2 linked regions of the Homo sapiens genome follow. The protein of the gene in region 1 interacts with the protein of each later gene in a biochemical or structural test. Each region holds a gene or a part of one and is shown in the gene's direction. Other genes may lie near its edges.

Region 1 (7,120 bases):
TAAAAAATAAAAAAAATTAGCCAGGTGTGGTGGCGCGCACCTGTAGTCTCAGCTACTCGGGAGGCTGAGGAAGGAGAATCACTTGAATAGGGGAGGTGGAGGTTGCAGTGAGCTGAGATCCTGCCACTGTACTCCAGCCTGGGCAACACAGTGAGACTCTGTCTCAAAAAAAAAGATTCACTCATGTCCTAACACTCAGACATGTACCCATACATATCTGTTAAGGTCCCCAACCCCATGAAGCACATATATATTCATATAAGCACATGTCAAAGCCATGTGTGTATGCACATGACAACACTTGCCTGGACATTCAAAGCAGCCCCTTTCAACAAGTGGATGATGATGCATACAAGTAAATACACATTTGAGTATTTCATTGCACACAAGTGCATACATGTATGCAGATAAACAAATACAGCTGCCACAGAACTGCATCCATGTACACATGCAAACATCAATATGTGTGTTTTCCACCTAACATATCACCCACAAGCTCACACACACCAGTGTGTCTCTGATGTAGTGACACCCCACTCCTAGACACACATGTGCAGACTCCCACCTGCACTTAAATGGTGCACATACTCTGCACACATGCACACTCATATCCATGTAGAGGCAGGCACCTGCCTGCCCTGGTAAGATGAGCCAACTACTGCTGCAAATACCCAAGCAAGTACAGGCAAATGCAAGCTCTTGTGTATACACCCAGCACCAACACATAGCAGACCACCCTGTATGGTGTATGGGCCTTATCTCTGCCCGCTTCATTTATTTATTCATGTGGTGCCCCGCTGCTTCCCAACATCGTAATCCACTGACTAGGTCTTGGCAGGATCCTGAGGCTGTGAATGGTAAATGCCACCTGGTTCCTTCATGAAGTCACTTATTTTATTTATGCAACAAGCATTAATTGAGCACCTACTGTATACCAGGCACTGTTCCTGGCTCTGGGACCCAGCCCTATTCCTAGCCATCACTCCTGCACGTCCCATGGGGTTAGAATGAAAGAGATGAGGGAGGGCTAAGGGAGCTGAGGAGTGGGGTATCCAGGGCTCTCTTCCTCTGGGAAGCCTACCCTGATTCCACCACCACCATTTACTTGAGTCTCAGAAGATGTGATGAGGGGGAGATGAGCAGGAGGGAGATGGTGCTCTGGGTGGAGGGAACAGCATGAGCAAAAGCATGGTGGTGTGAAGGGTTACTTCCAGATCTTCCTATGTGCCTCACAGCATTTTGCACAGGCCACTTGATGTTTTGTTTTGTTTTGAGACAGAGTCTCACTCAAAGCCTGTTACTCAGGCTGCAGTGCAGTGGCATGATCTCAGCTTGCTGCAGCCTTGACCTCCAGGGCTCAAGTGATCCTCCTGCCTCAGCCTCCCAAGTAGCTGGGAGTATAGGCATGCACCACCACACCCGGCTGACTTTTTTCTTTTTAATTTTTTGCAGAAGCAGGGTTTTGCCCTGCTGCCCAGGCTGGTCTTGAACTCCTGGGCTCAAGTGATTCACCCTCCTCAGCCTCCCAAAGTGCTAGGATTACAGGTGTGAGCCACCACGCCCAACTGATGTTTTAAAGGCTCTATAAACATGTTATGAATAAATGACATGAACAAATCAGTGAATTTAGGTGAGGGTGGGTTTGCTTCACAACTTACAATAATATCAACAACAAACCCCATTTATCCAGCTTTTTTGTTTGTTTGTTTGTTTTTTGAGACACGGTCTCACTCTGTCACCCGGACTGCAGTGTAGTGGTGTGATCTCGGTTCACTGAAACCTCCACCTTCCAAGTTCAAGCGATTTTCCTGCCTCAGCCTCCCGAGTAGCTGGGATTACAGGCACGTGCTACCACACCTAGCTAGTTTTTGTATTTTTAGTAGAGATGGGGTTTCTCATCTCTACTAAAAATACAAATACATCTCTAGTGGCCAGGCTGGTCTTGAACTCCTGACTTCAAGTGATCCTCTTGCCTCGGCCTCCCAATGTACTGAGATTACAGGCTCGAGCCACCGTGCCCAGCCCAGCATTTCATAGGCATGATGTTAAGGATTTTTATGCCCATGCCCTCTTTAACTCTTACAGTAGCCCCATTGTACAGATGAGGAAAACTGAGGCTCAGGGAGCTTTAACAACTTGCCTGGTGGAACAGAGCCAGAGGTGGAGCTGACTGACTCTAGAGCCTACTGGGGTTGGCAGAAGTTTGAGCCTTCTCTCAGACCCCAGGACCTCGGAGACAGCCAAGTCCCTTCTGTGGAGTGATGTTCTGCCCTGGGATTGCCTTCTTCTTTCTATTTATTTATTTATTGGAGACAGAGTCTGGCTCTGTTGCCCAAGCTGGAGTGCAGTGGCACAATTTCAGTTCACTGTAACCTCCTCCTCCCGGGTTCAAGCAATTCTCCTGCCTCAGCCTCCTGAGTAGCTGAGATTACAGATGCACACCATCATGCCCAGCTAATTTTTTGTATTTTTAGTGGAGATGGGGTTTCACCATGCTAGCCAGGCTGGCCTCGAACTCCTGACCACCAAGTGATCTACCTGCTTTGGCCTCCCAAAGTGCTGGGATTACAGGCATGAGCCACTGTGCCCAGCCAGGATTGCTTTCTTCTCTCATGCATCTAGTAAACAGACATGTCACAATCTCTCCATTCATCGGGGCTATTCCCCTGCTCCTTGCCTAAGAAGCCTTCACACATCCCTCCGTTCCTGGCTACTCAGTCCCTGATACCCTCCAGCTAGGAGGAGCTGCATCTAGGTCTTAGCTCCTACCGTTCTCATGGGATGCCCTCCAGAGTTGCATCTTCAGGGCTGCAGCCTAACCCTTTCCCTAACCTGGCCTCACTTTTCTTCCACATACAATGGACCTCTTCTGCAAGGTGCCAATAAGGGCATCCTGGGTCCAGCAGGCCTGAGTGTGAATTGCTAAGTCCACCACTTCCTGGCAAGTCTCACATCCTCTGCATTCCTTGGTGTGCTCATCTGTGGAATGGGCACAGGAGTAGCATCCACCATCTACGTTTGCCAGAACTCTCTAATGAGGCTTGCAGAGCCCCTGGCATGACTCCTGGCCTACGGGAAGGCCCAATAATCGTGAGCAAAAGACATGAAAAATCAATGATGGGCCGGCCCCGGTGGCTCACGCCTGTAATCCCAGCACTTTGGGAGGCCTAGGCGGGCAGATCTCCTGAGCTCAGGAGTTCAAGACCACCCTGGGCAACATGGTGAAACCCTGTCTTTACTAAAATACAAAAAAATTAGCTGGGTATGGTGGCGCGCGCCTGTAGTCCCAGCTACTCAGGGGGCTGAGGCACGAGAATCGCTTAAGCCCCGAAGGCGGAGGTTGCAGTGAGCCGAGGTCGCGCCACTGCACTCCAGCTTGGGCTACAGAGTGAGACTCCGTCAAAAAAAAAAAAAAAAAAAAATCAATGATGATGTTTTTATTAATGGAGACTAAAAGCTTTCTGGAAGGCGGTTCTGAGTGCAGGACATTTCTGAGAGTCCACTGCATTCTGGGGCCCGAGGAGCGCTCCAAGAGGGGTCCCCCAGGGCCACTCCAGGAGGGAGCCTAGTTCGTTGAGGGTACACGGGTGGGACCGAGCATTCAGCACCGTGGACAGCGCCTGCCCGCGCCTCTGGGGGACAGCTCTTAGCTCAGCCTCCCAGGATTAATGGAGGAGGTGACGTCATTCCTTCCGTGAATTACTATTTAATGAGCACCTACTATAGGCTAGGCCTACTTCTAAGTGGTTCATGGTAAACAACACACACACAAATCCCTTATTCCCGAAGCTCTCTGGAACTCCAGGTTCTTGGTGTTTTTTACACTGAAGGCTCAGTCTGGCTCTGGTCTATTTGTGTCAACGGAGGATAAGGGTCCTCATTTAGTGTCTCCCAGATGCGAAACCAGCACAGCTGAGGTCTTTTATCCTAAAGCCCATCCATCTCCCGCTGAAATGCCCTCCACCAACATCACACACAAAACGATCAAATCTCCTATAATCTATTTCTGGATTCTCTATGCTTCCTCCCTTCCCCCAAGCTAATCCTGGGGCGGGTGGGCTTTCAGAAGCCCTAGACGGCTGGATCTCCACCTCCTGTCTCCCCACCCCATCCCACGTGGCAGGTCAGGGAGCCAGTGCCCCAAGACTGCAGTCCCCCCTAATTAGAATCCAGGGTCAGTCAGCCATGTGGTTCACGCCTGTAATTCCAACACTTTGGGAGGCCGAGGGGATGGCTTGAGCCTTGAAGCCAGCCATAGCAACATAGCAAGACCCCATCTCTACAAAAAAAAAAAAAAAAAAAAAGGAATAGCCAAGCATGGTGATGCGCACCTGCAGTCTCAGCTACTCGAGAGGCTGAGTGGGGAGGATCGCTTGAACCTGGGAGATCGAGGCTGCAGTGAGCCATGATCACACCACTGCCCTCCAGCCTGGAGCCTGGGCAACAGAGAGAGACCCTGTCAAAAAAAAAAAAAAAAAAAAAAAGAAAAGAAAAGAAAAAAAAAGAAGAAGAAGAAGAGAAAAGAAAGAAAAAGAAAAGAATCCAGGGTATTCAAATCCTAGAATCCAGGCCAGGGACACCTTTAGAACACAACCAAATAATAAAAACAGTAAAGATATCAGTAATAATAATAATAGTATAAATGACACTATAATCATTCTGCAGAAGGGGTGAGGGAGGAAGAGGAGGGAAGAAGAGGAGGAGAAAGGAGAGGGAAGGGAGATCAGCCACTCCGTCTCCCCATTTTCCAGATGCAGAAACGGAGGCGCGAAGCCAGGCTGCAGGGGTGTCCCGCAGCCTGAACTCCTGCCTCAGCCTCCCCGGGTACGGCCACTACATTCATCAGTCAGCGCTTCTGGGGGCCCCAAAGACCTTTGAGGCCGCATGACGCGGTGTCTTCACCCGCTCGTCGCTGGGGACAGCAGTGGGCACCCCCCTCATCCCCGCCCCCCTGTCCGCCGGCGCGCCTCCCACGCCCTCCGCGCGCCCACGCTATAAATAGCCTCATGCGTGTGACCCGAAGCCCGCTGGGGAAGGGTGGCGCTTCCGCCCCGCTGACCCTGATACAGCAACCCGGCGCAGGCGGGGAGGTGGCGGGATGTGACGACGAAGACGGTGACTCAGGGACCATTTACTGACCGGGGAAGACAGGGAGAGAGACTGGGTTCCTTCTCTGAGCCCCCTTCCTCCTCCAAGCCTCTCCCCCGATACCACCCTCCCCTCTGCGCCCATCCCCCTTCCCGAATCCCCTCCCTCACCGCGAACACCCTTCCCTCCTGAGAACCCCCTCGCCACTCTCGGCCCCCTTTCCTGTCCCCTTTTCCCTCTGAGACCCCTCTCCCACTGGGAGCCCCAGTGATGAAAAATCATGGATGTCCTCAACCTGGACCTCGGCAGGGAGCTAAGTGCAGGAGCCTGGCTTCAGCTATCAGAGGGTACAGCCCTCCAGCCGGTCCCCCACTGCCTGAGGACCCCAACGGAGACCATTCCCCTCTAGCCAAGAGAGGCTGCAGGAAGGAGCTGAGGCTTAGGGAAGAGGAGCCGGACTGACCAAGGGAGGGGCACAAGAAGGGCAGAGACAGTGAGAGAGAGAAGGAGAGAACAGAGACCAAAAGAAGACGACCAGAGTGGAGAGAAATAGAACGGGGAGGAGGGAGATGAGAGACAGGGATTGGGAAAGAGAGAGAGAGAACAGATCAAGGAGCTACTGGGCTCCCCGCTGAGCCTAAATCCATGGTTTATAAAACAGGGCACAGTTGGAGGAGCTTCAAGTGAGCCCAGCCCAGTCTAGACCCCAGTGAGCCCCTTGTATCACCCCCCAGAGCCTGTCACTTTCCCACCCCCATATGCATCCCTACTTTTCTCCCCCAACTGCCTCTCCTCTCCCCAGTGTCTCCTCCACCTGCCTGCCCTCCCTAGTGGAAATCTTTCCCCCTCTCTCTTTTATTATTATTATTATTATTATATATTTTTTGAGACAGAGTCTTGCTCTGTCGCCCAGGCTGGAGTGCAATGGCGTGATCTTGGCTCACTGCAACCTCCGCCTCCTGGGTTCAAGCGATTCTCCTGCCTCAGCCTCCCGAGTAGCTGGGACTACAGGCGTGCACCATCATGCCCGGCTAATTTTTGTATTTTTAATAGAGATGGGGTTTTACCATGTTGCCCAGGCTGGTCTCGAACTCCTGACCTCATGTGATCCACCTGCCTCGGCCTCAAAGTGCTGGGATTACAGATGTGGGCTACCACGCCCAGCCTCTCTCCCTTTTAAATTATTATTTTTAGACATGGGATCTTACTACATTGCCCAGGCTGGTCTTGAACTCCTGGGCTCAAGGGATCCTCCTGCCTTAGCCTTCCTAGTAGCTGGGATTACAGGCATGTGCCTCTATGCCTGGTACTCTCGCTGTCTCCTTGTGTCTCTCTATTTCTCTCCATCTGTCCAGACTCTCCTCTCTTGCTTTCATGCCCATCATTTCTTCCTCTCTCCTCTCCCTTCCTCTCCCTGTATGAGTCCCTCCAGCTGTGGGTGCCTTTCTCAGCCTCTGTCAGCATCCCCTCCACCCCCGATCCCGTCACATTCTACCTCTTGCCCCTTCCCCTGCCCACCCCCTTCACAGAGAGTCCCCACGCCTGCAGGCTGGACCTCCTCCAGGAGCCAGGCCCAAAGCTCCTGCTGGGCACATTCCTGAGTGTTCCTGAGCCTCTTTCAGTCCCAGGGGTGAGGTGCTGGGTGGGTGCGCTCCCTGGGGGCTGGGTGGGGCTGAGGATGTGAGCGAACAAACCAGACCTAGAAAAAAAAAAGACAGAGATGGAAGCAGAGATGAAGGCCCAGAGAGAGGGGTTCACTTGCCCAGGGTCACACAGCTCAGGAATCTGAACCTGGCTCAAACCAGCATTCACTTCTCTCAAGGCCCACCCAAGGGCTGCAGTGCAGTGGCACAATCTCAGCTCACTGCAACCTCTGCCTTCCAGGTTAAAGGGATTCTCCTGCCTCAGCCTCCCGAGTAGCTGGGATTAGAGGTGCGTGCCACCACACCCGGCTAATTTTTGTTATTTTAGGAGAGACGAGGTTTCCCCATGTTGTTCAGGCTGGTCTCGAACTCCTGACGTCAAGTGATCC
Region 2 (7,000 bases), on another chromosome or scaffold:
AGTGATTGCCCCTTGATCAGGTAGCTAGCCAGTGGCAGAGAAGCTGAAATTGAACCCACACTTTGTGACACCTGGTCCTCTGTCCTTTGCTCCCAAATATGCTGTTTCTTGGGGACCATGAATCACTGGAAAGTCACCAGAAGGTCTTTAGAAGGCTAGGAGAGGCCAGGTCAGCTTTCAAGCAGAGAAGGCAGGAGTCACAGTGGTGGTCAGGATTCAGAGGGAGGCAGGGAGCCCAATAAGATGTCTGCAATGTTTAGGGAAAGATGGAACTGGAGATTGGGAGGAGGAGGTGCTGGTAGTAGTGTTAGTGAAGTGGCCACCAAGATGGCAATGAAAGAGGAGGTGTCATGGTTTAGCAATTCCGGGTCTGCACAGAGAAATGTTCACGCCTCCCACCATGCTTCAGTTCATTGCTCCTGGTGGATTTAACCAGCACTCACACAGACTTTTGGTGGGAGATCCAAATACAGAGGCCCCAGGGTGCCTATCGGGTAGCTGGGAAGACAGAAGTCTGAACAGCTCGGGAGGCTGAGGCACAAGAATTGCTTGAACCTGGGAGGCGGAGATTGCAATGAGCTGAGATGGTGCCACTGCATTGCAGCCTGAGTGATGGAGTGAGACTCTGTCTCAAAAAAGAAAAAGAAAAAAAGAAAAAGAAAAAAAGAAATGTGAGCAGCTAGCAGACATACAGAATGTGATGTGCTGGGCTCAGGAAGCAGCTTGTATGGGTACAGAGGACACAGGATCGGGTGTCACAAGACCTGGGTCCTATCTCCAGCTCTGCCACCAGCTGGCTGTGTGACCATTGGGAAATCACTCTACCTTTCTGGCTCATACATCTGTAGAATTAGCATGCGCCCAGAGTTGCTGTAGGACAGGGACCAACAAATGATGGCCCACAGCCCAAATCCGGCCCGTCACCTATTTTGTGTGGCTCATGAACTAAGAATAGCTTTCACATTTTTAAATCATTGAAAAAGAATCAAAAGAGAGTATTTTGTGACACATGAAAATTATCTGAAATTCAAATTTCAGAGTCCAAAAATGAAGTTTTACTGAAACACAGCAGGTTTTCTGGTTTTTACCAGAAACTTCCCCCCTCCTAAAAGAATAAGAATTAGTCCCCCACCTTAATCACGCTCTGGTGCAATAATTTTTATTTTCTTCATAGCGGTTGTTACTCTTTGAAAATATCTATTTACTTGTGGGTTTTAACCCCTGTCTTTCCTCACTATAATAATTTACATTGCAAGGACTTCGGTTTGCTGATCTCTCGCAAGTGCCTAAAATAAATGAATGCATGCCTGAATGAATAAATTGCAGCTGGTGCCCCTTACTAGATGCCAGAAATTTGTGCTTATTCTGGGCACTCAGGGAGGGAATGGCTTGGATCTAGGAGTCCCAGGAAGTTTAACCCACGGACTCCTGTTTTTTTCCTGCTTCCTTAGGGGTCTTGAGAAGCAATGGCCACAGAAGCCCCTGTGAATATAGCACCACCTGAGTGTAGCACTGTTGTCAGCACAGCAGTTGACAGCCTCATTTGGCAGCCAAACTCACTAAATATGCACATGATAAGGCCCAAGTCCGCCAAGGGACGGACAAGACCGAGTCTGCAGAAATCCCAGGGCGTGGAGGTGTGCGCTCATCATATACCATCTCCGCCTCCAGCCATTCCCTATGAGTTGCCAAGCAGCCAAAAACCAGGAGCCTGTGCACCCAAATCTCCAAACCAGGGAGCTTCTGATGAGATCCCTGAGCTGCAGCAGCAAGTACCCACTGGGGCTTCCTCTTCTCTCAATAAGTATCCAGTCCTTCCTTCCATCAACAGAAAGAACCTGGAGGAGGAGGCTGTGGAAACCGTTGCCAAAAAGGCCAGCTCACTGCAACTGAGCAGTATCCGGGCTCTTTACCAAGACGAGACGGGCACCATGAAGACAAGTGAAGAAGATTCCAGAGCTCGAGCTTGTGCCGTGGAGAGGAAATTCATCGTCCGAACCAAGAAACAGGGCTCTTCCAGGGCTGGAAATCTGGAGGAACCATCGGACCAAGAACCAAGGTTGCTGCTTGCTGTTAGATCACCAACAGGCCAAAGGTTTGTACGCCATTTCCGGCCAACAGATGATTTGCAAACCATTGTTGCTGTGGCCGAACAGAAAAACAAAACCTCCTACCGACACTGCAGCATTGAAACAATGGAGGTGCCCAGGAGGCGATTTTCTGACCTCACCAAATCTCTGCAAGAGTGCAGAATCCCCCACAAGTCTGTGCTGGGCATCTCACTGGAAGATGGGGAAGGGTGGCCCTGAGTCCACAGCCACCCAGCTGAGGTCCTGGGTCTCTGAGCAAAGGAGCATGCTTGGGCGTTGTGGCCTCTTAGGCAGCCTGTTTCAAGTGCCATGTGGACCTGGTGCAGCTGGGAAGCTTGGGACTCTCGTCTGCACTGCGTGTCCTCTGAAGCAGTGAAGTCTGTGCCTATGCCGAGCGCGCTAAGAAGTCTCCCTTCCAGCTGTTCCATTCTCTCCACCACCAGCGTAACTGGCAAGTTACCAAGGTTGTTCCTGAAACAGCAGTGATCATGACTTCTCCTTTCCAGAGTTTTGGGTCCTTCTGAATTAATGGTCCTTTTCGAACACCGGCTTGCCTTTACAGTGAACTGTGATTCTCTCGAAGCCAATGCTTTCCTGTCTGTATTTGATGCAGGATTAAACACTTCCCAGAGAGGATTCTAGTCTGGTAAATAACCACAGTGTAGGAACTATCTAACTGGCATTTGTGTTTCTTGCGAGTATTTTGAAGAAACAGGCCGTTGACCCCATCTTTGGAAGTAGCCCTTTACCATGCATGGTCAGTTTCTTAGGGATTTACTATTTGTGTGAGGTGGCATCTAAGGGAAGAATGGGTTTTCTTCCCCAAAACATCAGCATTTCTAAAATAGTCCTAAAGCTTGAAAGTAAGTTGCTTCCATGAGCATGGATTACCCAGTAGCTACTTTTTAATAGAGACTGACTAGGTTTACAACTTCTGGGAGCTACTCTGTGGGCTGAATTCTTCCAAAACCGAGAAAAGCCAGTGCAGTCTGATTTCTTTTGCTTTTGTCAGTAATGGAATCTTTTGTTTTTAAAATGTACAAACCTATAAGTTTAAACAGGTTTGTACTGACAACCTCCTTGGCTTATTTGGGGGTGGAGCAATTGTTTTATTCCCCAGTTTCAGTGCGTTGCCCACTTCAAACATGGTGTGTCCTTTGGAGCTGTGACAGAGGTGCCTGTTCTGACTTAGAACCTCTGGAGGAGGAGGGGGGTGCCTTGGTCTCGTGTTACTTTGCTGTGCCTGTGCTGAGAGACCATGTGCCCGAGCATCTGGTTGACCGGCATGAAGTACATCAGCCTGTCTTAGCCTGAGCTGCTTTGAAGACCATGGGGTCTTGTGTTTCCAACTTCGAAGTGCTGATGTGGACAGTTTGCCAATGTTCTCTTCTATTGCAAGTTCAGCCAGACTCCATGACTCATCTGATCCCTTTTATGGCCAAATCATCCTTCAGAGTAGGGAACACTCAGACATTCTGTGCATGTTGTTCCCCCAAAGCATGGTCATCACAAAGTCCTGAGTTCTGGTGTGTGCTCCCGCCTCCTGGGTATACAGAGAGAAGGCAGGAATCAGGAGTTCCAGAAGCATATACATGTGGCTACCCCAGCAACAAGCGCATCCTGTGCTCAGATAAGCTGCATGGTTGGGAGTGTTTTTTCTCGCACGTTGAGGCTTAGTGGAGATGGGCACCACTGCCATTTGCTCAGAAGAAGGCTGGTCTGGTCCTAACTGCATCCCACACTGCCCAGATCATTCTAGAATAGGTTATTTCTGAATGTTTTATAGAATTTCTTAATACCATCCTGGTTTGGTCAGCCATTCCTTTGATTGGAAAGGTCAGCTGGGGCCAGTGGTGCCTCAGGCAGGCCCACACAACTGGCCACCTCTTCCCGTTAATGACCACAGCAGACAGAATTTGAGCCCAGCACCTAAAAGTACAGGAATTTCACTTCCCACCAGGACTTGAGCACATAACTCTATGTCTGATCTAGGAGGCTGGGGGAAGAGCCTCCCATAAAATCACACCTACTCTGTGGTAAGAATAAAATCCCACCCACCTGGGACTTGGTAATTTCTCCAGACAGGAAAGCTTTAGAAAACTTGAGTGAAATGGAGCAAGCTTGAAGGAGTTAGAATCTTCTGTGCTTAGGGTTTGCTGCTGCTGGTGAGCTTAGAATTTTGGGGTTGGGAAAAAGTGGAAGGCATAAGCATAGAAATATTTTAGGATATTTTAGGATATGTGAATAAAGCTAGACTCAAACCATCATAATAAACATTTTTTTTTTGGACAAAAGATGATACGATAAAAACCAACTTGTGTGAAACTGAGTCAGTGGAGAAGTGCATCTCGTATTTTAACCTAAGGCTTCAGCTCCCACACACGACTGGACAGAGGGGTGTGTTAGCCTGATCTTCAGTTTTCTCATTGGGAAAGCACTTGTTCCACTGTTAGAACCAAGTCCTCCTCCCCGGACACTTCTGATGCCCACTGCAGAAGCGACGGGGCTCCTGCTCTCAGCTTCTGTCACAGCACTTAGCTTGTCTGGATAAGAGTCACCTGAATTTTTCCTAAACATCATTCCAAGTACTCTGATTTTGGGGATTGGCAAGAACAAACTAAATCAGAATTCAGAGTTCCTGATGGCTCCACATGTTGCATTGCAGCTGAGGCCCCCTGTCCTAAATGGGCTCAACCGGCCTAGCACACTCCTCTTGGTGGCTTTGGGTGGGTCAGCCTTGCCCAGTTTGGGGTCATAGACCTCAGTTATTCATTTAACCGATGGCCATTGAGGGCTTACCCAGTGCCACACTTTGAGACAAGCATGGGTGTCCTGAAAAGAAAGTGTTGGCAAGAAAACATGAACCCACCATTGGACTCTCAACTCAAACCTTACTGAAGTCAGTGGCTATAGCTTTATCTGCAAAGGACCCCAAAGTGAGGATCCCACATTGTTACTGCTGGCTCTTCATCCCACCCTCTGGAGATGCTAAGGAAGCTCTTGCCCACCTTTTCTAGTGATGGAGTAGGAACTTTGCATAGGACAAACCTTCATGATAGGTTACTCTAGTATATTCCCTCATAAAGTCCAATAGGTAAATTAGTCTTGGCAGCAGAAGGAACAGCAGGAGAAGTAAGTGATTCATCATCTAGAATCCAGAAAATTTGCACCAACAGATGGCAGGTGGTTATAACACAACAGATCTTGCCCTGAGAATATCTGGGGACCCAGCCAACAGCCTTCAAGGCAGGGCACTCCTGCGGAAGAGATGGCTTGTGAACATGACTGTGGACCCAGAGTCACCCCAGAGCTCCCATATAAAATGCTTCACAGAGAAACTAAGAGCAGCCTTGGGGCATTCATTCCAATTAATAACCTTAAAGACTAGAGCCAGATCCACCTGCATTACAAAAGCAGGCATTCGAGGAACTAAACTTTGCTTTTGTTCATGCTCTTACCTGCCGTTTTAAATGGGTTTCTAATGTCAAATAAAGCCACCCTGCCTCTTGGGACAAAGATGTTTCTCTTTACTTAGTTTTAAAAATAAAATCCTCATAATAAGTTCGGATAAAAGAGACTTTTACATGGTAAGAGGATCTACTTTTCTACCTTTTAAACGGAATAAAGAAGACAGCTATATTATTTTGCTTTAGCATTAGTTTAGAAGTCATTCCAAGAATTAAGCAGGAACATCTGTTTTCTCAGTCCATTAAGGCAACACCCCACAGTAAAGTTAAAAGTTCACGAGCCTATTGACTCTCATCCAGAAACCAGAACCAACCAAACCCCACCATATAACAGGGAAGGCCTGAGGTCGCTTCGGAGGAGTTAGCAATCAAAGGAGAACAGACTTTTGGTGACTCAGTTACCAACACACAACACTCATAAAACTAAAATTAGGTGTTTTATTTTTTGTCTACACGGGTGGCGTGCCACTTTCCTTTCCTGATTAGGGAAGCTTCTCCCAGCCCTTTCTGACGTTCATCTGTGTGCCTTTATGTTCAAACAGTTTAGGAAGCAGCAGCCCTCCTAACAGTCGACGCGGAAGCACAAATCTCTGGAGGTATTTTTGGACACACTTAAATCCTATCCCAAGAGACTGAACGACTGTGGTGACAAATGCCCACGGGTAAAACTGAGCAAGCCTCATTCAGACTGTCCTGCTCAGAGGCGCCCTCTGGCTGCCGTGTTGAGGGGCTGGGGTGGAAGATGGAAGACTTGAGTGCTGGAGGTATGAAGGTGACCAGAGAGAGGTGATGGTGGTTCGGGCCAGGGTGGTAGCCAGAGATGTCATGAGAGGTGGCCAGATTCTGGACATATAATCCATTTTCTTAAGGAGAAAAAAAAGGATAGTTTGACAAGTTGGGATTCACCCAGGTGGACTTAGCTTGACCAATATCGCCAACGTGGATTGTTTCTGCAAAAACAAACAAGCAAACAACCACCACGGCAGCAAAGCACATGGCAGGCAGGGGAAAGACACTGACCAGCAGGAACATTCCCATCAAGGAAATGCACGAGTGTTTTTGGACAAAGTGTACAGAGAAAATCAAAGCTATTCATTGTTTTAATTAAGAGATAAAACTAAGGTCACTGTTTCACTTAATGTTGAGATATAAGTTAAAAGTATCATCTACCTCTAGGGGTATGATATGACTGCTGACCAAGGTTACTTAATAAGAAATCCTTGTTCTAGTTAAATACACTGTTTATCTCTATCTCCTGTCCTTCATCCCTCCCTTTCTTGCCACCCTTCCCTCCATTTATTCCAGTCCAGCAGCTGACTGGGGATGCATTTCTTCTTGGGAAGGCAAACAAAGCCATCATTCTGGGGCTTAATTAATAAAGCTCCTAGTTTCATAGTTTTCATGCTCACCTCGTGTTTATATGAGGGGATCTGTGCAGTGGGG

Evidence for each region. Proteins that work in one complex are often made in the same cells at the same time.
Region 2: the proteins of UNC13A (region 1) and UBXN10 form a complex in vitro, tested with the Homo sapiens proteins (one study listed by BioGRID).

The regions. Positions count from the first base shown.
Region 1 is NC_000019.10:17,678,254-17,685,373, reverse strand, and holds part of UNC13A (protein unc-13 homolog A), read left to right. Parts: intron 1-7,120. UniProt on the Homo sapiens protein: Plays a role in vesicle maturation during exocytosis as a target of the diacylglycerol second messenger pathway.
Region 2 is NC_000001.11:20,189,096-20,196,095, forward strand, and holds the end of UBXN10 (UBX domain-containing protein 10), read left to right. Parts: intron 1-1,451; 5' UTR 1,452-1,466; coding exon 1,467-2,309; 3' UTR 2,310-6,955; downstream 6,956-7,000. UniProt on the Homo sapiens protein: VCP/p97-binding protein required for ciliogenesis. Acts as a tethering factor that facilitates recruitment of VCP/p97 to the intraflagellar transport complex B (IFT-B) in cilia.